Homo sapiens: one gene and its partner. The protein of the gene in region 2 interacts with the protein of the main gene of each other region in a pairwise test. Each region holds a gene or a part of one and is shown on either strand. Other genes may lie near its edges.

Evidence for each region.
Region 1: the proteins of CARHSP1 (region 2) and AKAP8L interact in binary tests that used the Homo sapiens proteins (3 or more experiments, as listed by UniProt).

What each region holds. Positions count from the first base shown.
Region 1 is NC_000019.10:15,405,946-15,418,124, forward strand, and holds part of AKAP8L (A-kinase anchor protein 8-like), read right to left. Parts: intron 4,650-12,179; coding exon 4,575-4,649; intron 1-4,574. UniProt on the Homo sapiens protein: Could play a role in constitutive transport element (CTE)-mediated gene expression by association with DHX9. Increases CTE-dependent nuclear unspliced mRNA export.
Region 2 is NC_000016.10:8,856,162-8,868,242, forward strand, and holds part of CARHSP1 (calcium-regulated heat-stable protein 1), read right to left. Parts: exon of another isoform or gene 11,888-12,081; intron 11,268-11,887; exon of another isoform or gene 11,091-11,267; intron 10,282-11,090; exon of another isoform or gene 10,261-10,281; intron 5,574-10,260; exon of another isoform or gene 5,481-5,573; intron 4,413-5,480; exon of another isoform or gene 3,944-4,412; intron 3,175-3,943; 5' UTR 3,168-3,174; coding exon 3,010-3,167; intron 2,312-3,009; coding exon 2,189-2,311; intron 1-2,188. UniProt on the Homo sapiens protein: Binds mRNA and regulates the stability of target mRNA. Binds single-stranded DNA (in vitro).

The DNA of each region.
Region 1 (12,179 bases), on a different chromosome or scaffold from region 2:
AAGAAAATAGGATATGGAGGCAAAAGCAGATCCATCAGGGCTCTGCTTGGGAGGCTACAATGTGGTCACTGCAAGCTTCACCTGCTGAGGATCTGCCACAACAGAGTGAGGAGGCACAACGAAAGGAAGCAGCATCAACTCCGTGAACACCACTTTACGTTTTAAGGACAAGCAGGGCCTCCCACGATGGGCAACTCTCAGGAGTCCCTCCAGGCAAACACTCACTACATGCCACTTGCTATGCCTGGAGCAACCCAGACTCCTTGATGGACATCCCAGCTGGGTCCCTTCAGGAGGAAGCCTTCATCTAGACTGGCGTTTAGGGACTCCCCAAGACCTGCCCTTTCTGAAAGAACACCCCAACTCATTTCCATCCCCAGAAGGGATGAGATCATGGTTGACAAAAGAAATTTTAAGGAGAGAGAGAGAGAGAGAGAGAGAGAGAGAGAGAGAGAGAGATCCTTAAAATTTATATATTTATTATTATTAAATATATACATATATATGTAAAAATAAGATATATGTACATATATATTTTTGAGATAGAGTCTTGCTCTGTCCTCCAGGCTGGAGTGTAATGGTGTGATCACAGCTCACTGCATCCTCGACTTCTTGGGTTCAAGTGACTCTTCTGCCTCAGCCTCCGGAGTGGCTGGGACAACAGGCATGTGCCACCATGCCCAGCTAATTTTTTCTATTTTTGTAGAGATAGGGTTTTACTATGTTGCCCAGGCTGGTCTCAAACTCCTGGGGGCTCAAGCCTCCCATCTCAGCCTCTCAGAGTGCTGAGATTATAGGCATGAGCCACTGCACCTGGCCCCAAGGACATAATTTTTAAAAGAAAAAAGGACATGGTCACAGTATGTGATATTTATGGACCAAAAATAGAAAACAATTTAACACTCAACTTTAACGTAATAGTTAATCAGATTACACCTACCTACTCGGTGACATATCATGTAAGCATATAAAAAGAATTTACTATGCCTTATGTGGCACAAGGAAATGCTTCTAACATAAAATAAAGCAGGACCAGCCAGGCGCAGTGGCTCACACCTGTAATCCTTTTGGGAAGTGGGGCAGGCAGATCGCTTGAGCCCAGGAGTTTGAGACCAGCCTGGGCAACATAGCAAAACCCCATCTCTAGAAAAAATACAAAAAATAGCTGGGCATGGTAGGGCATGCCTGTAGTCCCAATTATGCAGGAGGCTGAGGTGGGAGGGCTATCTGTGCCCAGGAGGTGGAGGTTGCAGTGAGCTGAAATTGTGCCACTGTGCTCCAGCCTGGGGGACAGAGTGAGATCATATCTTAAAAAAATAAAATAAAATAAGAGCAGTACCCACAATTCTATCCACCTATAAATTATTAAACTACACAAAATCAGTAAGCTGATAAAAATTAAACATTAATATGGTAGGATCTTGGTTGACTGTTTTTCAAAATGTTATTTAAATGTTATATTGTTCTTGCAATTCAAGCCAGAAGGAAAAATAAATCCATCTCTATTCTTTCACAATTGTGTATGTAAAAAAATCTCAAACAAATCTACAAAAGAGCTACTAGAATAAGTGAGCTTAGCAAGGTTTATTACAAGGTCAATCTGTAAGTCAAATTTCAAATATTACAAGGTAAACCTACAAATCAAATAGCAATCAAATTTCTATATATCAGCAATGAATGGAAAGTTTTTAAAAGTACCATTTCCTATAGCACTAAAAGCATGAAAAACTTGGCGTAAATCTAACAAAGTATGTGTAGGATCTGTGTTGAAAACTACAAAACACTACATCAGTGAAGTGACATACTGCACTCATGAATCAGAAGACTTGATATTGTTAAGATGTCAATTTTCTCAAACTAATCTATAGATTCTACAGATTTGATAGATCTATAGATCCAAGGCTCTCTCACTCAAAATCTCAGCATGAATTTTTTAAAAAACTTCATAAACTGATTCTAAAATTTATATGCAAAAGCAAAGAAACTAACAATTTTGGAAAAAAGAACAAACCTGGAGGACTCATATTTCAAGATTACTATTAACCAGTAATCAAGACTGCATTGCTGGGCGAGGCGCAGTGGCTAATGCCTGTAATTCCAACACTTTGGGAGGCCGAGGCAGGTGGATCATGTGAGGTCGGGAGTTTGAGACCAGCCTGGCCAACATGGTGAAACCAGTCTCTACTAAAAATACAAAAAGACCGTGCTGCTGAACGAAATTTAGATGTACAGACCAATGGAACAGAATGAGAGTCCAAGAGTCCAGAAATAGACCCACAGTATATGGTCAACTGATTTTCAGTAAAGGTACGAAGGCAATTCAATAGAGAAAATATAGGCCTGGCACAGTGGCTCACACCTGTAATCCTAGCACTTTGGGAGGCCAAGGCGGGTGGATCACCTGAGATGGGGAATTCAAGACCAGCCTGGCCAATGTGGTGAAACCGTCTCTACTAATAATACAAAAATTAGCCAGGCGTGGTGGCACATGCCTGTAATACCAGCTATTTGGGAGGCCAAGGCACAAGAATAGCTTGAATCTGGGAGGTGGAGGTTGTGGTGAGCTGAGATCGCGCCATTGCACTCCAGCCTGGGCAACAAGAGCGAAACTCCATCTCAAAAAAAAAAAAAAAAGAAAGAAAGAAAGAAAGAAAGAGGCCGGGCGCGGTGGCTCACGCCTGTAATCCCAACACTTTGGGAGGCCGAGGCGGGAGGATCACGAGGTCAGGAGCTCGAGAACATCCTGGCAAATACGGTGAAACCCCGTCTCTACTGAAAATACAAAAAGATTAGCCAGGCGTGGTGGCGGGCAACTGCTCGGGAGGCTGAAGCGGGAGAATGGCATGAACCCAGGAGGCGGAGCTTGCAGTGAGCTGAGATCGCGCCACTGCACTCCAGCCTGGGGGACAGAGTGAGACTCTGTCTCAAAAAAAAAAAAAAAGAAAGAAAAAATGGTTTTGTTTTTGTTTTTGTTTTTTAAACAAATGGTGCTGGAACAATTATATATTTATATGCCATAGAAGAATAAGAAACCTTAACCTATACTGCACACCTTGTAGAAAAATTAACTCAATATGGATCACAGACTAAATGTAAAACCCACAACTAAAACACCTAAAAGAAAATTCTAAAGAAAATATTACAGATTTCTTAGATATAAAAGCAAAACCATCATCTATTAAAGAAAAGATTGAATTGGGCTTCAAAATTAACAACTTGTGTTCTTTCTGACACAAGACAAGACACACTGACAAGAGAATAGACAAGCCACAGTCTGGGAGAAAATATTTGTAAATGGCATATCCGAGAAATGGCTTGTACTCAGAATATGCAATCCAGAGGGAAAATAATTCAAAAGGATGTGCAATTAGGGACTACATTTGATGAAAAGGGAGAGGCAGGGAGGGCAGCACAGGGAAGTCAAGCAAACCAAGTTTCTCCTCATTTATGAGACACCTGATACCTTCTCACTCAATTTCAAAATATTTTAAGTCTTCCCTTTTCCTGGGACTAGCTGCTGTTACTTGGGGAGCTTACTTAAGTCTCTTTATGCAGTGACCCCTGAAGGCATGTTAGCTGTGTAGGATCAGTCTTTCCCCAGATCTTGGTAGTAAAAGAAATTACCCATCTCAGTAACTAAGACATTATCCCTGTTAATTCCAAAGAGGGCTCCTTCTCAACAGATACCCCTAGAGTCACAGACAACCAAAAACCAGCTTTAACAGCAGTCCGGGCTGCCACAGCACACAAACAAAACAGCATCTGTGAATCCTACTGGTGGCTACTTCTGAATTAGCTAATTAGGTGTTTCTGTCCACGCTGGAAAACTCAATCAGAGATCTTCACTCAACTCTGTGTGTGTGGAGCCTGCTGGCTTGAGGTGGCCTGGCTGAGTCTCCAAAAGCTGCCAGATTCACACACTCAGCCTCTCTCCCACAGCAAGGACATGCACTATGCTGGGACTAAGTTAATAGCTTGCTTTCTCCTGGACCAATCCTTTGGACTTTTTTTTTTTTGAGACAGAGTCTTGCTCTGTTGCCAGGCTGGAGTGCAGTGGCATGATATCGGCTCACTGTAACCTCTGCCTCCCGGGTTCAAGTGATTCCCCTGCCTCAGCCTCCTGAGTAGCTGCGACCACAGGCACACACCACCATGCCCGGCTAATTTTTTGTATTTTAGTATAGATGGCATTTCACCATGTTGGCCAGGATGGTCTCGATCTCCTGACCTCAAGTGATCCACCCGCCTCGGCCTCCCAAAGTGCTGGGATTACAGGCAGGAGCCACCGCGCCTGGCCTCCTTTGGACTTTAATTGGCCACTGTGACTCCCAGTCCCTCCCCCATGGGGATTTGAAGCCAGGCCTTTTATCAAAGAGCCTAACTTGCTCAGGAACACAGCTACTTTTCCCATAATTGCCTGAAAGGGAAGCACTAGCTATTCAAATGGCCACACCATTTCACACAAGTTTAGGTTTAAAAAAGCATGACAGGGTGACAGCAAAGCCAAAGGCAACTAAGAAGACAAGGAACTGCTCTGCAGAACACTTTGGTTCCCACCAGAAGTCCACACTTACCATAATCACAGGTGGGCTGAGCGCTGGTATCCGAGTATGTCGACTGCAAAGTGGTTTCAGATCCCTGGACAAAGCCTAAACATAAAGACAGTGGGGTTAATTTCCACAAGCAAGTCACAGGGAAATGACCTGAGACTACCTAACCTTTGGTATAGGATTGCCAGCAGGCCCTTCTCTCAACGAAAAGCCACCAAAACCTCTAGATTCCACAGTTTAATTAGACCGTCAGAAAATATTACCCAATGGAAAGGCAGGCTATGTTTAACTTGCTATACCAGGAGGACTAGATTAAAAAATTATTTATTTACTTTTTAAAAACAAGGTCTCACTCTGTCCGGGCTGCAACGCAGTGGCATGATCACGGCTCACTGCAACCTCGACCTTCCAGGCTCAAACAATCCTCCTGCCTCAGCCTCCCAAGTAGCTGAGACTATACGTTCGTGCCATCATTCGCAGCTAATTTTTATACTTTTTTGTAGAGATGGGGTTTCATCATGTTGCCCTGGCTGGTCTTTAATTCCTAGGCTTAAGCAATCCACCCTCCTGAACCTCCCAAAGTGCTGGGATTACAGGTGTGAGCCACAGAGCCTGGCCCCAAATAAAAATTTTTAAACATTTAAGCCAGTAGCCTATTTTGAGAAATGAACACCCAAGTTATCATTCTGTTAAATGAGGAAACTATTCAAATCCCTGAAGGGTGAGCCACTTGGAATTCAAACAAGGATGGAGGTTAGCTTCAAAACCATGTTAAAGCAAATAATACCCCCCTCCCTGTTCTAAATCTGAAACAGAAACTGCTTTTTATTTTGGTTTTCCCATTAAAAAGTGTGTATAACAATTATAACAATTATTTCTGGGCCGGGCAGTGGCTCATGCCTGTAATCCCAACACTTTGGGAGGCCAAGATGACCAGCCTGGGCAACAGGGTGAAACCCTGTCTCTACAAAAAAAAAAAAAAGCCAGCTGTGGCAGCATGTGCCTGTAGTCCTAGCTACTTGGGAGGCTGAGGTGGGAGTGTCACTTGAGCCCAGAAGGTCAAGGCTGCAGTGAGCTATGATTGCGCCACTGCATTCCAGCCTGGGTGACAGAGCAAGACCCTGTCTCAAAACAAAAACAAAAACAAAAAACAATTATTTCTTAAAAGTAATTATTTGGGGTGGCATGGTCATATGGAAATAAGTATTATTATATATACATAAAATTTCCTATCTTCTCAACTTTCAAACTATTTCTCAACATAAAATGAATTAGGGCTGGATGCAGTGGCTCATGCCTGTACTCACAGTACTTTGGGAGGCCAAGGGGGGGTGGACTGGTTGAGGCCAGGAGTTCAAGACCAGCCTGGCCAACATGGTGAAACCCCATCTCTACTAAAAATACAAAAATTAGCTACTAAAAATACAAAAATTACAGGGCACAGTGGCTCACGCCTGTAATCCCAGCACTTTGGGCGGCCGAGGCAGGTGGATCACGAGGTTAGGAGTTCGAGATCAGCCTGGCCAATATGGTGAAACCCTGTCTCTACTAAAAATACAAAAATTAGCTGGGCGTGGTGGTGTGTGCCTGTAGTCCCAGCTGCGCAGGAGGCTGAGGCAGGAGAATCGCTTGAACCCAGGAGGCAGAGGTTGCAGTGAGCCAAAATCATGCCACTGCATTCCAGCCTAGGCGACAGAGCAAGACTCCGTCTCAAAACAAACAAACAAAACCCCAAAATTAGCTGGGTGTGGTGGCACCTGCCTGTAATCCCAGGTTCTTGGGAGGGTGAGGCAGAAGAACTGCTTAAACCCAGGAGGCGGAGATTGCAGTGAGTGGAGATCGTGCCACTGCACTCAAGCCTGGGTAATAGAGCAAGACTCCATCTCAAAATAAATAAATAAATGAAATAAAATAAAATGAGTTAGTGCCAAGTAAGGAAAACTTCTACCTCTATCAGAAACCAGTGCTCCTACAGACTATGACTGATGCTAATCCTGACACTTGCTTTAAAACTACATTAAAAAAAGAAAAAACAACAACTCTACAGTTAGAAATACATATATATTTTTTTGAGACGGAGTCTCGCACTAGGTTGGAGTGCAGTGGCACGATCTCGGCTCACTGCAACCTCCACCTCCCGGGTTCAAGCGATTCTCCTGCCTCAGCCTTCTGAGTAGCTGGGACTACAGGCGCGTGCCACCATGTCCGGCTGATTTTTTTGTATTTTTAGTAGAGATGGGGTTTCACCATGTTAGCCAGGATGGTCTCGATCTCCTAACCTTGTGATCCGCCCGCCTTGGCCTCCCAAAGTGCTGGGATTACAGGCGTGAGCCACTGCGCCCGGCCAGAAATACATATTTTTGAATAATTTTCTCTCAGCACTGAAATTACGACAGATACCATAAGAGGCAGTATTTGCCTTTCCCATCAGAGCCAACTCATGACCTGAAAATTAAAGCCTATGCCTTTAACAGCTTGTTTACATCAAAAACCTACAGAAGTGCCTTCCCCCTGGGTAAGCGTTCTCTTATTTGTTGACAGTGTCTCTATTTTATCTCTTAAGACCACAGCAGCAGCAGCCAACAGCAAACAAGTGCTTTCCCTGCAGGGTGCTAAGAACATTTATCTGCAATGATCTCATTTCATCCTCACCACAGACAATAAGGGCAGGTGGGCAAGATTCCTTACTCTGCAATTCCCCCAGGTCCAAAAGGGTCTGAACACCAAGTGTTTTCTACCAGTGTGGTGCCAAAACTCACGCTGGAGCTGTTTTCACCTGTAAGGACATTTATAATCTTTCTTTGTCCTACTTAGTGCAGAATTAATCTATTTAAATACAAGGTGCTTCCCCAGACCCCACGTGACTTCTCTTAAGCTAGAATTCCAAAATACATCTAGCTCCAAGGGTTCCAAAGACGGAGCTGTGAACCCAGCTTCATCTTCACTTTCCAGAGTAGGGACTGGGACTTGAGGCAGGATAAAACCGAGGGTATACAGATCCAGTCTTCTACCTTCCCTAAGTAAAGAGGCTAGAAATCCATTCAAATGGATTCCTTCCAGGGATCTGGACCTTCCTGAGATGCCTAAAATCCAGGCATTGTTGATTAATAGCTGTCCATAAGAAACACTGAGAGCAGCTTTGAAGAGTTCACCCAGGGGAAAGCCTTATAATGTAAGGAATACCCAGCCCCTGCGGTCTCCACTGTTTGCTCAACTGGCCTCTGGAAACTTGTTCTTTCAGCAATTGGGCCACCAGTAAAATGGCCTCAGACTTTAGGTAATGTGATCTGTGAGTACTGCAACTGCAAATGACAGCCTACCACACCCTCACAAGATACAGTCAGCAAGCTGCTGAGCAAAATATCTGTGTCTGTTCAGGCGAGAGGGGCCCTGGTGCTTCCCTAGGAAGGAAAGACGATCCATCAAACCCTCCAAGATCAATGGCAATCTCTGCTCTAACTCTATACCCTGCACCACATTAACATTCTGTTCCACAATACCATCTGCAAAGATCGCAGAGCAGGCCCTTCTGTAGCCAGTTTTGGCTCCTATTATGAATAATTCTTTTTTTTTTTTTTTTTTTTTTGAGACGGAGTTTCACTCTTGTTGCCCAGGCTGGAGTGCAATGGTGCGATCTCGGTTCACCGCAACCTCCACTTCCCAGGCTCAAGCGATTCTCCTGCCTCAGCCTCCCGAGTAGCTGGGATTACAGGCATGCGCCACTACGCATTTTGTATTTTTAGTAGAGACGGGTTTTCTCCATGTTGGTCAGGCTGGTATCAAACTCCCGACCTCAGAAGATCTGCCCGCCTCGGTCTCCCAAAGTGCTGGGATTACAGGCGTGAGCCACCACGCCCGGCCTAAATTCTTAGCTGGTTTGTAAAGTGTTCTCTTGGTACAATTTATCAGCCTGATTAGCGCTGGTTGAAAAAAATAAAATATGCCCTATATGGCCCTATAAAGCTAAATGTTAGATCACAGATTTCTTTTTTTTTTTGTTTGTTTGTTTTTGAGACGGAGTCTCGCTCTGTCGCCCAGGCTGGAGTGCAGTGGCACGATCTTGGCTCACTGCAAGCTCCGCCTCCTGGGGTCACGCCATTCTCCTGCCTCAGCCTCCTGAGTAGCTGGGACTACAGGCACCTGCCACCACGCCTGGCTAATTTTTTGTATTTTTCACAGAGATGGGGTTTCGCTGTGTTAGCGAGGATGGTCTCGATCTCCTGACCTCGTGATCCGCCCACCTCGGCCTCCCAAAGTGCTGGGATTACAGGCGTGAGCCACCACGCCTAGCCCACGGATTTCTTTCTTTCTATTTTTATTAGAGACAGGGGGTCTCACTGTCATCCAGGCTGGAGTGCAGTGGCACAATCACTGCTCACTGTGGCCTCAGCCTCCGGGGCTCAAGTGATCCTCCTACTTCAGTCTCCTGTATAGCTGGGACTATAGCCACGCACCACCAGGCCCAGCTAATTTTTGTTTTCTTTTTCTTTTTTTGTTTTGAGAGACAGGGTCTCACTATGTTACCCATGCTGGTGTTGAATTCCTGGGCTTAAGCAATCCTCTCACTTTGAGACCATGGATTTCTAGTTCTGCAGCAACACTCCTTGCTTTTAACCAATCTCTCGTCAACTTTTTTTGCTCAAAAATACAAAAGCAGGCCAAATGCTGTGGCTCATGTCTGTAATACCAGTACTTTGGGAGGCTGAGTTGGGAGGATCACTTGAGCCCAGGAGTTCAAGACCTGCGTGGCAACATAGTGAGACCTCATCTCAGAAATAAAAAATTAGCCAGGCATGGTGGCATGCACATGTAGTCACAGCTACTTGGGAGGCTGAGGTGAGGTGGGAGGATTACTTGAGCACAGGAGGGCGAGGCTGCAGTGAGCTATGATTTTGTGCCACTGCACTCCAACCTGGGCAACATAGTGAGACCCTGTCTCAACAAAACAAAACAAATGCTTCTCAGTTTTATACTTTTCCTTTCTCCTTTTTAAAAAAGAGTATATATTTTCTTGAGACAGGATCTTGCTCTGTTGCCCAGGCTGGAGTGCAATGGCATGATCATAGCTCAGCAATGTTGAACTCCTGGGCTCCAGCAAACCTCCCAGTCAGCCGGGCGCAGTGGCTCATGCCCGTAATCCCAGCACCTTGGGAGGCCAGGGAGGGCGGATCACAAGGTCAGGAGATCAAGACCATCCTGGCTAACAAGGTGAAACCCCGTCTCTACTAAAAATACAAAAAATTAGCCGGGTGTGGTGGCGGGCACCTGTAGTCCCAGCTACTTGGGAGGCGGAGGCAGGAGAATGGCATGAACCTGGGAGGCGGAGCTTGCAGTGGGCCGAGATGGCGCCACTGCACTCCAGCCTGGGTGACAGAGCAAGACTCCGTCTCAAAAAAAAAAACAAAAAAAAAATCCCAGAGTCTCGCTGTCATCCAGGCTGGAGCACAGTGGCACAATCATGGCTCACTGCAGCCTCAACCTCGCAGAGCTAACTTTTTTATTTTTAATTTTTATAGAGAAAGGGTCTTGCTATGTTGCCCAGGCTCATCTCAAACTCCTGGCCTCAAGCAATCTTCCTGCCTCGGCCTCCCAAAGTGTTGTGATTACAAGTGTGAGCCACCGTGCCTGATCTAAAAAAAAAAAAGAGTCTTATTTGAAGGAGTAACACAGAGTACCAAAAATTAAAAGATAACTGGAATTAGGTTAGGTTGCCTTCAATCTTTATTATCTGAGCCAAGAGTAGGGTGACAACCATCCTCAAAGATGGTCTCCATTCCTGCCTCTTAACGTTATGTAGATCCCTCCCAACTAATAGAGCTAGCCAGTGCAACCAATAAGATTTATGAAAATGACTGAGTGTGACTTCTGGGATTTTCGCCTTGCTCTTTCTGGGATCATTCAGTCTGGAGAAAACCAGCCACCATGTTGTGAGGATACTCCAGCAGCCAGCCCTAGGGAGAGATCCATGGGGCCAAGAATTATTGGCCAGCATCAGCCTGCCAGGCATGGGAGTTTAAGTCACCTTGGAGGTGGGACCTCCAGCCTCAGTCAGGCTTTCAGATGACTCTAGTCCACATAGAGATCCTAAATGTAACCTCATGATATTCCAAGCTAGAACCACCCAGTGAAATCACCTATCCATTCCAAACATAAAGAAACTGTGTGAGACAATAAATGTTTCTATGACAAGTACAGTAGCATTTCAGACCTTTGTTTGAGGGCCTGATTCTGGATATTTCTGTGCTGTTTACCACTGCTCTCCTCTTCCCCTCTCAGTGCTAGAGATGCAGCTTCCTTTCCCACGTATAAATAAGGTAACAGGGTTCAAAAGCAGGGCGAGTTAATAAAAAGATTTATCAGTCACCTTTTATGTTTAATAATGCTAACATTTGCTTCGAGGCCTCTAGGACTTACCCTTAAAGCTATTAGTTGTCTGAAATGTGAATTAAAATGCCTTTGACTTTAGTGCCCTACTTCTTAAATAAGGGGAAGACTCACATTGTAAATTACTGTGGTTTTCAGTTTATCAAGATAAAGGAAAAACTAATCATTACTTTTTTAGCTTGGCTATCTCAGTGCCCACCCAAACCCAGAACTACAGCCTACAAGACCTAGAGCTGGAATTCAGGTTTGGTCATTAGTGACCTTGTATCTCAGTTTCCTCATCTATTAAAAAAAAGAGCTCCATTACTCAGCTACCCCACAGCACCCAACCATTCATCTTCTGGTTTCTTCAAGAGTCCTGTTTTTAAAAACCATGAAACTGTCTTCCAGTTCTTGGTAAGACTTGGTGAGAATTATATTCCAATCCCAGGGATGTCAGTAACAACCCCATAGTCTTTCCTCCTGAACTAGGAAAGCTACAGAAAGGCTCTGGCAGAGCTGCCCAACTTGGGCACTACTGATGTTTGACGCCAGATACTTCTTTGCGGTAGGTGTCATTGTGTATACCGTAGCAGGGCAGCATCCCAAACCTCCATCCACTAGATACCAGCAGCACTCCCACTCCCATATGTGACAACCAAAAATGTCTCCAGACATTGCCAGATGTCATCTGGGGCAGAATCACCCCTGGATGAGAACCCACTGGGCTGGGGGATGGTTGCTAGAAAAACTGGGGTTCTTGGAAAGCTCCTGACCTGGCAGCCAGGGTAGAGGGGACTGGCACTACCTTCTTGCCTATGCCAACATAAAGTGGTCTACAAAGGAGCCCCACAGACTCACGTTGCATTCTCAGTTCTCAAAATTCCAAGTAGAATGCAGGTTACCTGGCAACCACACACGCTCAAGCCTATAATACCCTCACCAAACAGGGAGGCCTAGTGTAAGTCTCCTGGCCGAGAAGCCTCATCAGTCACTGCCAAGGCAAACCCAGGAGGCCTTGGCAATTCACCCAGTGATGATTTACAGTCGCCCAAGCATATTGCGGGGGGCGGAGAGGGGCTCTCGGATCTGTCACCCACTCTCCCTTTCAAATCCCATTGGCCTCCCACTGGCCTCCCTGGCTGATCTTCTAACAAGCCAGGCAGTTCCTGCCCGTAAGCCTTTTACAGCAAAAGCTCCCTGGGCCAGATATCTTTATTCGCTCCCTCCATTTAGGTCTCTGCTCAAATGTCACCTCTTTACAGA
Region 2 (12,081 bases):
GGGCCTCTCCCTGTGACCACCCCCAGGAAGGTTCCCTTACTTTCTAGGGGACATGAGTCACCCTCTCACATGAGACTGGCATCTTGATGTCCCCTTGATGAAACCCCCCCAGAGGAAAACCCCCTTCAGATGCTAAATGCAAGGGCCAGCCAGCTCCCCTAGTAACTGGTTTGTTTTGATTGGAGAATCGTATGGTGAAGAGTGTTTCCCTCTTTGATCTGGTCACGAGGGAGCTCAGAAATAAATCTGCAGCCTACTTCCAGCAGCAGAACCAGACATCACAATATTTCCATCTTCCTAAATATTTCTTTGCCCCAACCTCTATGTTTTCCTTACTGATTCAAAATCCTTTCTGGGACAAGGCAGTATGGAAATACCCTTACACATCCATGTATGCATGCATATGTGAAATGCGTCACCTTGGTATTCTCCTGCCTGCCGATCTGATAGGTAAGCATGGGGCGGGGGTGGGCAAAGGAGGGGTAACTCCCCCATTGCAGTGGGCTCCTCTTTTCAGAAATGTGGTTTCCGTGTTAGCGGGTATGCTGTGCAGAGTAGGACTCTGTCTGCCCCTGCCTGAAGTAAAAGACTTGGGGGTGCTTAGGCCAAAGAAGCAGGTAGGGACAAGGGTGCAGATCGAGGGTCCTCCCCTGTCTAAAGGCTGCCCAGAGGATCAGAGGTGAAGCATGGGGGGCTGGGTGCCTTCCAGCCCAGCCCTAGGATGTGTGCGCCCCACCCCCGGCTCCCCAAGGGTTTTCAGACACTCAGGAAGGAAGGACGTCAGTAAGCATGCAGGAGGAGAAAGACCCACCCCAAACTTCCTTCCTGGAGCAAAGGGGCAGGACAGCCCCCAGCCTCACCAGTCCACCTCCCCCAAAGGAGGGCAGGAAGCTGGACTGGTCCCCAGGCCAAACAGGGCTCCCCAGCCTCATGGGGTGTCCTTGGCCAGATATAATGGGCACTCGGACTCACCCCAGCAGTCCCTGCTGCTCACACACATGCACCATGCACAGCTGACACCACCCTGTCTCCCACAAGCATAGTCGGGCACCCCCAGATCCATTTCCATCACTTTCTGGCTATGTGATCTTGGGCAGATCTGTTTTTTTTTTTTTTTTTTTTTTTTTTTTTTTTTTTTGAGATGGAGTTTTGCTCTTGTTGCCCAGGCTGCAGTGCAATGGCGCGATCTCGGCTCACCATAACCTCCACCTCCTGGGTTCAAGTGATTCTCCTGCCTTAGCCTCCGAAGTAGCTGGGATTACAGGCACCCGCCATCATTCCCCGCTTTTTTTTTTTTTTTTTCTATTTTTTTGTATTTTTGTGATGACAGGATTTCACCAGGCTGGTCTTGAAGTCCTGACCTCAGGTGATCCGCCTGCCTCCGCCTCCCAAAGTGCTGGGACTACAGGTGTGAGCCACCATGCCCGATCCTTTTTTTTTTTTTTGAAATGGACTTTCACCCTTGTCACTCAGGCTGGAGTGCAATGGCGAGATGTCGGCTCACTGCAACCTCTACCTCCTGGATTCAAGTGATTCTCCTGCCTCAGCCTTCCGAGGAGCCGGGATTACATGCACCTGTCACCACGCCCTGCTCATTATTTTTTTTTTTTTTTTTTTGAGATGGAGTCTTGCTCTTGTTGCCCAGGCTGGAGTGCAGTGGCGCAATCTCGGCTCATTGCAAACTCCGCCTCCCAGGTTCACACCATTCTCCTGCCTCAGCCTCCCGAGTAGCTGGGACTACAGGTGCCCGCCACCATGCCCGGCTAATTTTTTTTGTGTTTTTTTAGTAGAGACGGGATTTCACCATTAGCCAGAATGGTCTGGATCTCCTGACCTCGTGATCCACCCACCTCGGCCTCCCAAAGTGCTGGGATTACAGGCGTGAGCCACCACGCCCAGCACACACAAAACCTTACACACCCATTCACAAAGACACACCCAGGGACAATCACAAGTACCGTGTCGCCCCCAGCCTCACATCCCCCAACACAGCTCCGTAGAGTCTCACAACCCCAACCCAACACACACACAGGAGCACAGCTGGAGCACCAGCCACAGGCAGAGTCACACAGGCCCAGCCATTCGTCCTCACACCCAGCGCCCATCAGAGTCACACACCATCCCCACCTCCACAGGGCCAAGGAAGCGCCCACCCCAGCCAGGCCACCCAGACCTGCCGCTGACTCACTCAGAGATGTGCAGGAAGATGTCGGGGCCGCCATCAGCTGGAGTAATGAAGCCATGGCCCTTGGACCGGCAGAAGCATTTGCAGACTCCTTTGTAGACGGGGCCCTGTGAAGCCCGCACCGTCCTGACAGAGAGGGGGAAATGTCAGGGGCCCCATCAGCGCTCCTGGGCACACAAAGCTCATTCCAGCCCCTGCCCACAGCTGTGCCCCATCAAGCCCTGGCCAGGACCGCCATGTACAGTCACACAGGCTGAGGACTGCACAACCCTCAACCCTGGGAGCCGCTCACAAAGACGCTGGGGGAAAGGACTCTTTGGATGACCCTGGCCAATTTTCTCGGGCCTGTTTTCCCTCCTGGAAAGAGGGAGTTGAACTAAAACATCACTGAACATCCCTCCAGAAACTAATGATTTACTATTAATAACACAAGCATCCTCCACTCGCAAGGCCTGAGACCTGCATCTGCCAGGCATTATGTGGGTCCTTTGCAGCCCTGGTGCTGTGCCCATTTTGCAGCTGCAGAATTCACAGTCTCACAGGGAACCAGACTCTCATGTGTGGTTAAAGCCCAGCGATTCTGACCCCAGCAACTGCCCACCCATTGCCACTCCCAGCTGGTAACAGGTTCTTCTGGGCTGGGCAGTACCCTGAATTTACAAGGCGCCTTCCTAGTTTCTCACCCTCAGCCCACGGCCCAGCCCCAGGTCTGCCTATTTGGCAGTCCGGGACATAGGCCCAAAAATGGCCAGAGACACAGTGAATCTCTGGCCTCAGGCAAGAGATCCATCTGAGAACGCGTCCCCAGCCTGCTCCAGACTCACGCCGAGAAGGTCCTCGTCCGGCGAGTGGGCAGTGGGCTTGGGACCACGTTGCCCCGCAGAGGGGATGGTGAGCGCTCACGGCTCCGAGGGGTGTCCAGCAGCCCGACTGAAGCTTGATGGGTGGGGGGCTGTGGTGGTGGGGGAGGCTCAGATGACATGGCTGACCTGGAAAGAGAAGAGGCTGTCAGGGGCTCGTGCCTTGCAAGGTAGGGACCCTGTGCTTACCCCCATGTCCACGTCTGACAGTCCAGTATCTGAGGCTCATTCCTCTCGGGCACCTCAGCACCATTGTCACCTTGTCTGGGAGCACGCCTGGCAGGGTCAGATGCCTACTCTGGGCTCCTGAAGCAACCGTGGGGCCCCCTCGATCATAGCTCTTCATGAAAATGCCACATCCTCCCCCATGACCAGGATGGCATCGGTCCCCTCTGTGTCCCCAGCACAAGGCATGGATCCCGGCACATTTGGGACACATAGTATTTGTGGGAGGGAAGGAGGAAGGTGAGCAGAAAACCCAAAGCCAGGGGCCGGGCGCAGTGGCTCACACCTGCAATCCCAGCACTCTGGGAGGCCGAGGCAGGCGGATCACTTAATGTCAGGAGTTCGAGACTAGCCTGGCCAACATGGGGAAACCCAGTCTCTAATACGAATACAAAAATTAGCTGGGCATGGTGGCAGGCACCTGTAATCCCATCTACTTGAAGGCTGAGGCATGAGAATTGCTTGAACCTGGGAGGCGGAGGTTCCAGTGAGCTGAGATCGCACCACTGCACTCCAGCCTGGGCTACAGAGCAAGACTCTGTCTCAAAAAAGAAAACCCAAAGCCAGGGAGATTTTAATGCCAACCACCTAGATCCAAACTCAGCCACTCCACGGACCCTCCCTGACGCTGCTGGGAGCCAGACACCACAGGGAAGCAGGGGCAAAAACTGACCCTCACGCAGTGTCCGCCTCCAGGGAACTGTGGAACACGTCGCAGAGAGCTCAAGCGCCACGTTTGGATCCCTGAGCAGCTGTCACAAGCCTGCACCCAGGACTGGGGGGCCTGCTGCGAGAGCCCAAAGGGAAAGGGAGAATTTCCAAGGCTGCATCCAGCTCCATCAGGCCCAGTGAATTTCCACACAGCCCGGGTCACCACGCTGTTATGAAATCAAATTCCTTCTGTGACCCCTAGTATGTACCGGTAAATCCAGCTGGAGGGCGGGAATTCCCTAGCTGCTGCTGTGCTTTTGACAATTTTTCAAGAGCAGGACACTCGCTGTACACAATAATCACTGAACATTGAATATGAAGGTGTCGGCTCTAACGTGGCCTCAGCTCGAGGTTCAGGGGAAAGAGAAACAGTCCAGCAGTCAGAGGCCCTTGGGTAAGTCCTTTCCCATCTCTGGGCTCAGTTTCCGAATCTGCAAAGTGGGGCAGCTGGGTGGGCATCACTTGGCACCTGCGCAGGGCTGGTGATGGGGGTACGAGATGAAGTAGGGAGAAGCCTAACTAACTCAGGACGCCACTCAACACCACACAGCCGGGAGGGACAGCAGCAGCCCTGGATCGGTTTGACTCAGGTCCCATGGGGTTTTCAAATTTAGATTTGAAGCATGGGCCAGGTGCGGTGGCTCACACCTGTAATCCCAGCACTTTGAGAGGCAGAGGCAGGTGGATCACCTGAGGTCAGGAGTTGGAGACCAGCCTGGCCAACATGGTGAAAACCAGTCTCTACTAAAAATACAAAATTAGCTGGGCGTGGTGGTGGGTGCCTGTAATCCCAGCTACTCGGGAGGCCAAAGCTGGAGAATTGCTTGAACCAGGGAGCTGTGGGTTGCAATGAGCCGAGATCACACCACAGCACTCCAGCCTGGGTGACAGAGTGAGACTCCGTCTCAAAAAAAAATAAATAACTTTTATTTTTTTGAGACAGTGTCTCACTGTCACCCAGGCTGGAGGGCAGTGGCATAATCACAGTTCACTGTAGCCTTGACCTCCATGCCTAATTTTTTTTTTTTTTTTTTTTTTTTTTTTTTTTTTTTTTTTTATAGAGACAGGGTATCACTATGTTGCCCAGGCTGATCTCAAACTCCTGGGCTCAACGGATTCTCCCACCTCTTCCTCTCAAAGTGCTAGGATTACAGGCATGAACCACCATGCCCGGCCTGAACTATCTTAAACATCCCAGGGGGTTTCCTCAAAATCCAGGTTTCCAGCTGCTCATGGAAAGAAATGAAGCTCTCACAACCTTCAACCTCAGTTTGCCCCCCCAGTCCCCTCATTTATAGGAGTCTTCAACCTACATCACCCAAAAATCCCACCGCACCCCCCGAACCGCCTTCAAGCATAGCCACCCAAGAACCAGGCCCGACTGCTCAGAGGAGAAGGGATGCCCCATCCCTGAAATGTCAGAACCCCTCCCCAGACATTGCTGCACTCTCCCGTTGGGCCTCAGTTCTGTCGGGCTGGGAAGCTGGTGGCTGGCTTGCCTTCTGGAGGAGGTGGCATCCTACCTCCTGTCCCTTCTCTCAGCTACAGCCGCGGCCAAGGAGGAACTCCTGAGTCCGGGGAGCCCCCACCTCAAAAAGGCCCCAGCTGCTGGCCTGGGGGCCAGGGCCCCCGCATGACCTACCAGCACAGGTCATAGAGTCCTAGAATGTTCAACGCCCAGAGTTCCAGGAAAGAGGCTGGCCCTGGGAGGGGAGGGCCCTGTCCAGGCCTCCCAGGACAGCAGATGGGAGCAGTGGCCTCGCAACTCCACAGTTAGAGACACTGCCCTGCCTTGTTCTATCCAAAGTCTCCCTCCCTCCTTTCTCCTGGAGTCAAGCATAGCTGACTTTTTTTTTTTTTTTTTTTTTTTTTTTTAATTTGAGATGGAGTCCTGCTGTCGCCCAGGCTGGAGTGCAATGGCACAATCTCGGCTCACTGCAACCTCCACCTTCTGGGTTCAAGTGATTCTCCTGCCTCAGCCTCCCAAGTAGCAGGGGTTACAGGTGCCCGCCATCACGCCCGGCTAATGAAGCATAGCTGACTTCTAATCCTACCCCTTGCCTGCTGTGTGGTCTTGTACAAGTTACTTAATCTCTCTGGGCCTCAGTTTCCACATCTGGAAAATGGGAATTATAATAGTCCCGATTTCACACCATCAGGCTGAACTGAAAACAAAATAATACACACTAAGCACTGGGCACACTGTCCGCCCAGGTCCAGTGAGCAGTAATTGTCAGCTACGACTGTTGTTATAATTGTCATCATAAAGGCACTCAACAGACACGTGCCCAATACCGAGCCCTGTTCAAGGCCCCAGAGACAAAGGGCTGAACTTGAAGCCAGAGAATAAACAGTTAAATAAACATAAACCAGATCATTACAGATCCCAAAAGGGCTGTAAAGAAACAGACAGAAGGGGATAGGGGGAGAAGGGTGGGAATACACACGCTAATCAGGGTGCCTGCAGGACCCTGAACAGCAAGAAAGGGGTAGCCATTTGCAAAACGGAGGGAGGCTGTTCCAGGTATAGGGAACAGCCTGTGCAAAGGCCCTGAGGGCCCGGGTGGGACTGAGGCCAGTGGGGAAACCATGTGATGGGTGGGGGACTAGGAATGGGAGGCAGGAAAGGCGGTGGAAAGGGTAGGGCCCGCTCAGGAATCATGCCGCGTCATCATCATCATCACTGTCATTGTCACCATCGTCGTCCTCCTTGCATCTTCCATTTGTCACACCCATTTTCCCCTGGGTGAATGGCACAGACCCAAAATGGGGGCCCCCTTCTTTCTCCACCCAAGCCCCCTCAACACCCCAAGTGCACCCAATCCTTCAGAGATGCCACTGGAAGCTCATGGCCTGTAGGGGTGAGGAGTCTGAGGGCAGCACAGGGCCCCTCTGTGTCCCAAGGGCCCAGCACAGGCACTGGCACAGAGCAGGGTCTCCAGACGGTCCAGGAATGGCCACAAGGATGGCTTTTTTTTTTTTTTTTTTTTTTTTTCAGATAGGATCTCACTTGGTCACCTAGGCTGGAATGCAGTGGCGCGATCATGGCTCACTGAAGCCTCTCAACCTCCTGGGCTCAGGTGATCCGCCCACCCCAGCCTCCTGGGTTGTGGGACTACGGCCACGTGCCACCACAACCAGCTCATTTTTTGTAGAGACAGGGTTTCAATATGTTGCCCAGGCTGGTCTTAAACTCCTGGGCTCAAGCGATCGGCGCACCTTGGCTTCCCAAAGTGCTGGGATTACAGGCGTGAGCCACCACACCCAGCTTCCAAGCCTCATTCTTTGCCAGCATTAGGACCCAAAGCCCCAGCTGGCTGCCACTGCATTGGTGTGCACTCAGCACCATGCCCAGCCCAGCAGGAGGTGGCTACATTCCTGCTCACCTGATAGTGGAAGAAACTGAGGCACGGAGCAGACGTGACTAGGGGCGGGGGCAGTGCCAACTGGGAGACCCAGGAGCTTTATCCAGCCTCTCATGGCCCATCTGGGCTGAAGCCAAGCTGGGGTGGCCAGAGTAGGCCTGGCCAAGGGCCACTCACTCCCCAGTAGGCCCAGCAGAGAGGAGTGAATGGCCTCAGTGCGGGGGAGGGCCGGGCAAAGTCCAGCTGGAAAGAAAACAACTGGGGGGCGGGTAACCAGGCACCCAGAAGCCAGCTCTGAGGCCCTGGCCAGCCTCTGCTGTGTCCCCTCCACAATACACACATACACAAGGATGGGGCCACACAGCAGCCCCGCCCACCAGCACAGTCCCAGCTTCCAGCCAGCCACTGCTCTCCCAGCAATACCAGGCATGGCCTTGGAGTGTCCCCAGCAGAAGACAGGGCCTGCCCTCTGTGACTAGCCTTCAGCTCCCCACAGCTGGGGGAGGGAGGAAGGCTGCAAACAGATCCGCCACTCAGATGAGCTTCTGGCCTGCAACAAACTTCGACCAAATGTCACGACCAAGGTGTCATGACTGCCAGGCTGCATGTACATGTGTGCTCGTTTGTGCACAGGTATGTAGGTGTATGCACATGTGTATGTGTGTGCTGTGTATATACGCATGTGTACACATACATATGTGCCCACACATGGCTGTCTCTGCATCTGAGCGCATACACGTGTATGCATGCGTGAACTTGTTGCCGTCTGTATGCACACGTCCATGGAGCGGGGAGCCTCACCTCACCGCACAGCACGCTGGGCACCTGTGCTGCCACAGGGGACCTTGATGAACTCTGCCACTTCCTATTGAACCAACAGATAAGGGAGTGGGACAGACCATGACTACCACCACCACAGCAGTGTCCTGGGGCCATTCTGCTTACTACTTTACAACACTTCACACAGCCCAGCTCATTCTATCCCCATTTCACTAATGGGAGAACGGAGACACAAAGAGTCAAGTAACTTGCCCAGGGTCGCCCGGCTAACAAAGACCCTGGTGAAATACGGAGTAAGTCAGACAGCAGAAATGCTACGGAGAAAAAGCCAGCAGGGTAAGGGGGAGAGGCTGCACCAGGAGGTGCCCAGCTGGCCATGCACCCCCTTCCCCAGTCAGCCCCCAGGCTCTGATGAGTGCCCGGCCAAGGGAGGGAGCCCAGGGTGGTGGGGGCAGGAAGCCACGCCCACCCTGACTGCCCCAGGGATGGGTGTGTCGGCTGGGAGAAGGGGGCCTCGGCCGAAAATAGCCTGGGAATTTTCCGTAGGCTCTGCAGCTCCTCCTGGAAGGTTCTGGAGTTCAGCTGGGTACCAAGACTCTGGCTTTCCCAGCCCCTGCTCAGCCTGCCCGCATGTCTGGAGACTTACGGCCCAATCATGCAGCCCCCATTACCCACTCCCCAACTTCCTGCCCTCCTGGCCTGAAAACCCACCACCCACATCAATGGGAGCCAAGCAGCCCTGTGCTTACTGCAAGGAGGGCTTTAGCAGTGCTATCAGCCATTTACACTCTAGTAAGAGGGAGCTCATTGAAGGAGACTCCATTCATTTTTGTTTTTGTGAGACAGAATCTCCCTCTGTTGCCCAGGATGGAGTGCAGTGGCACAATCTCAGCTCACTGCAGACCCCCGCCCCCCAGGTTCAAGCGATTCTCCTGCCTTAGCCTCCCGAGTAGCTGGGACTACAGGCATGTACCACCACACCCAGCCAATTGTTGTATTTTTAGTAGAGACGGGGTTTCACCATTTTAGCCAATCTGGTCTCGGACTCCTGACCTCTCATGATTTACCCGCTTCAGCCTCCCAAAGTCCTCGGATTACAGGCATGAGCCACCGTGCCCAGCCAGAGATTCCATTCTTAATAGCTTCAGCCCCTTTATTGAAGACAGGATGATAGAAGGCAGGGGGATAAGAGTTCAAGTCAGACACCTCACTCTTGGCAAAGCGAGAACCTCTCCAAGCCTGCTCTGCAAAATGAGGGTGTCTTGAGCCTTCCATGGGATGCTGGCTGGGGAAGGCCAGGGTTGGGCATGGTGTTGGGGCAGCTTCCAGCCCGGAGCCAGCCCACTGCTGGCAGGTGTGGTGGGTAGTGGCCCGCACTATGGGGATGGGGCAGGCTGTAGTGCTTTCATACACCCTACAGCCACTGTCCACAGACTTCTGCGTCAGGCCCTGTTGGGGGATTACAAACATCAACTACATGCACGTAAACATCGACCCAACAGGGGAGGCACTTTTAGCAGCCCTGTTTTACAGATGAGGAAACTAAGGCACAGAGTTAAGCCAGTGATTCTACTTCCTACTTTAATGCAGTCAGGAATCTCTGGGGATCTTGTTCAAATGCAGATTGCCATTCAGCAGGTGTGGGGTGGGGCCTGAGATTCTTCATTTCTTTTTTATTTTTTTTGAGACAGGGTCTTGCTTTGTTACCCAGGCTGGAGTTTGGTGGCACAATCATGGCTCACTGCAGCCTCAACCTCCTGGGCTCAAGGGATCCTCTCACTTCAGCCTCCCAAGTAGCTGGGACTACAGGCGTGTGCTACCACACCCAGCTAATTTTTTTATTTTTTGTAGAGACAAGGTCTCACTGTGTTGTCCAGGCTGGTCTCGACCTCCCAGGCTCAAGAGATTCTCCCACCCCGGCCTCCCAAAGTGCTGGGATTACAGGCTCCAGATTCCTGGCCAAGATTCTACATTTCTAAGGCGCTCCCAGTGAGGCAGCTGTCCCTGACCCAGGGAACACGGCAGTAGCCGGGCTACACTGGCCCATCTCACAGCCCAAGGCTTAACAGTGCAGGAGGTGGAAGGGAAATGGCGCAGGGATCGGGGTGAGACTCTAGCAGAGTAGCGAAGTTACCTTAGTGCACCTGGGTTCCTCCTTTGTAAACAGACAGAGACACTGAGCTGACCCATCCCAGTCTCCAGCGCAGCTGAGCCCCAGCCTGGGAGAACTGCCGGCACGTGGGCCGAGAGGCGGGGCGGGTCAGCTGAGCCCAGATAGAAGGGTCCCTGGAAGCGATAGAGGCCGAGAACGAGCCAGAGGTTGACGCAGCAGCGTCAGGCTGGCCTAGCCACATTCCCCTCCATTGTTCCGGGGAGAGCGGGGGGTCTGGCGAGGGAGGAGCAGAGAGAGAGGAGGGGGAGGGACACGAAGGGATGGGGGTTGGAGTGTCCAGGGGGAGGGACGGGAGGCAAAGGGGAGGGGGCAGCCAGGCCGGAGTCAGCCCTCCGCTGGCTAAGGACCTGAAGCCAACAGTCACAGAGAAGTGCAAACAGGCGGGCAGGGAAGGTGCAGCCCGGCGCCTACGTCTGCCCAGAGCCCCCTCCCAGGCCCCGCCAAGCTGGGAATAGCTCTTCCGCCCTCAGGAGCCCCTGAGTGCTGGGAAGAGGCCGGAAACCCGAGGAGTGTACCGGGAACCCAAGGGGGCCTCCAACATTGCCATTGCCTGTGCCCCCATTAGCACCCCTGGACGGCCTCGACCGGACGGGCGACCCCACCCAGCAGGGAGACGGTCACCCCACCGCCACCACCCACCTGGGACCCTGCGCCCGCCCCAGTTCTCAGCCTGGACTGCCCCTCCTGCGGGAAGCCCAAGCCCTCCTTCTCAACAAGAACCCTACTCTACACGCCTCCCCCACTCAATCCCTCCATCCTTCCCTCCATTCTCGGGGGGCTTTGGCTCAGACCTGAGATTGAGCCCTGACTGGTCCCCACTCCCTCTGTGACCCCTGCCAGGCGATTTCACCGCCCCACCCGAGTTTCCTCATCTGTCAAAGGGGACAGGAGCGGTGCTGCGTCGCAGGGCTCGGACGCTGTGCAGATGGTGCCGCGAAAATGCCAAGCGCACGGCGGGCTCAGTCCACAATAGTGCGGCTGATGGTGGAAGTGTCAGGCACGGGCCCATCTGAAATCACCTTCCCTCCCATTCCTGCCCCTGCTGATGGAACACAAACCAAATGCGCTGGCTTTGCCACTCGGTGGAACAAAGACCGATCCCCTACCTAGGGGACCCACCGTCAACCACCCTCAACCCCACCCCATGGCCCCACGCCAGGCCTAGCTCAGCTCATTGAAAACATCTACTCCCAGCCGGGCTCTGCGCCTCTTTCTTGCCCTGAAGGGACCAGCATCGAGAACTCACGGTCATCACCGAGGCCACCCAGGGAGTGCAGAGGGCGGTGGGGTCTCCAAGGAGGACCCCGAGCCCAGAGGAGGGCCAAAGGCCCGAAGGGAGGGAGAACAGAGGCAGAGAGAGGCTGGAGAAGGTAGTGGCGGAAGATAACAGGAAGCCCTGCTGAGAAGTTGGGGACTTAGACGACAATGGGACTTCGGTGGACGATTTTCAGCGTGGGGTAGATCTAAGCGGATTGTTTTTCTAAGTTCCCTCTGGCTTCAGAGTGGCAGCAAATGACAGGGGCAAGCAAGACTGGGCACAGAGAGACTGAGAAATATCAAAACAGCAAGTTAAAAAACAGTAGCTTACGTGTCTCCCGGCACGGGGCTAGCTGCCTCCTTTTACTCTCACACACCCTCTCATGCCAGAAGAAGTCAGAGCCCAGTCTGCAGATGGGGAAACTGAGGCTCCGAGAGGCCTCCTATTTGGCAGAGATTTCCCCACCTATTAAGACCCAAGGCCCTGCCTGGAGCGGGACGTCTCCGCCTCCCCCAGCACACACA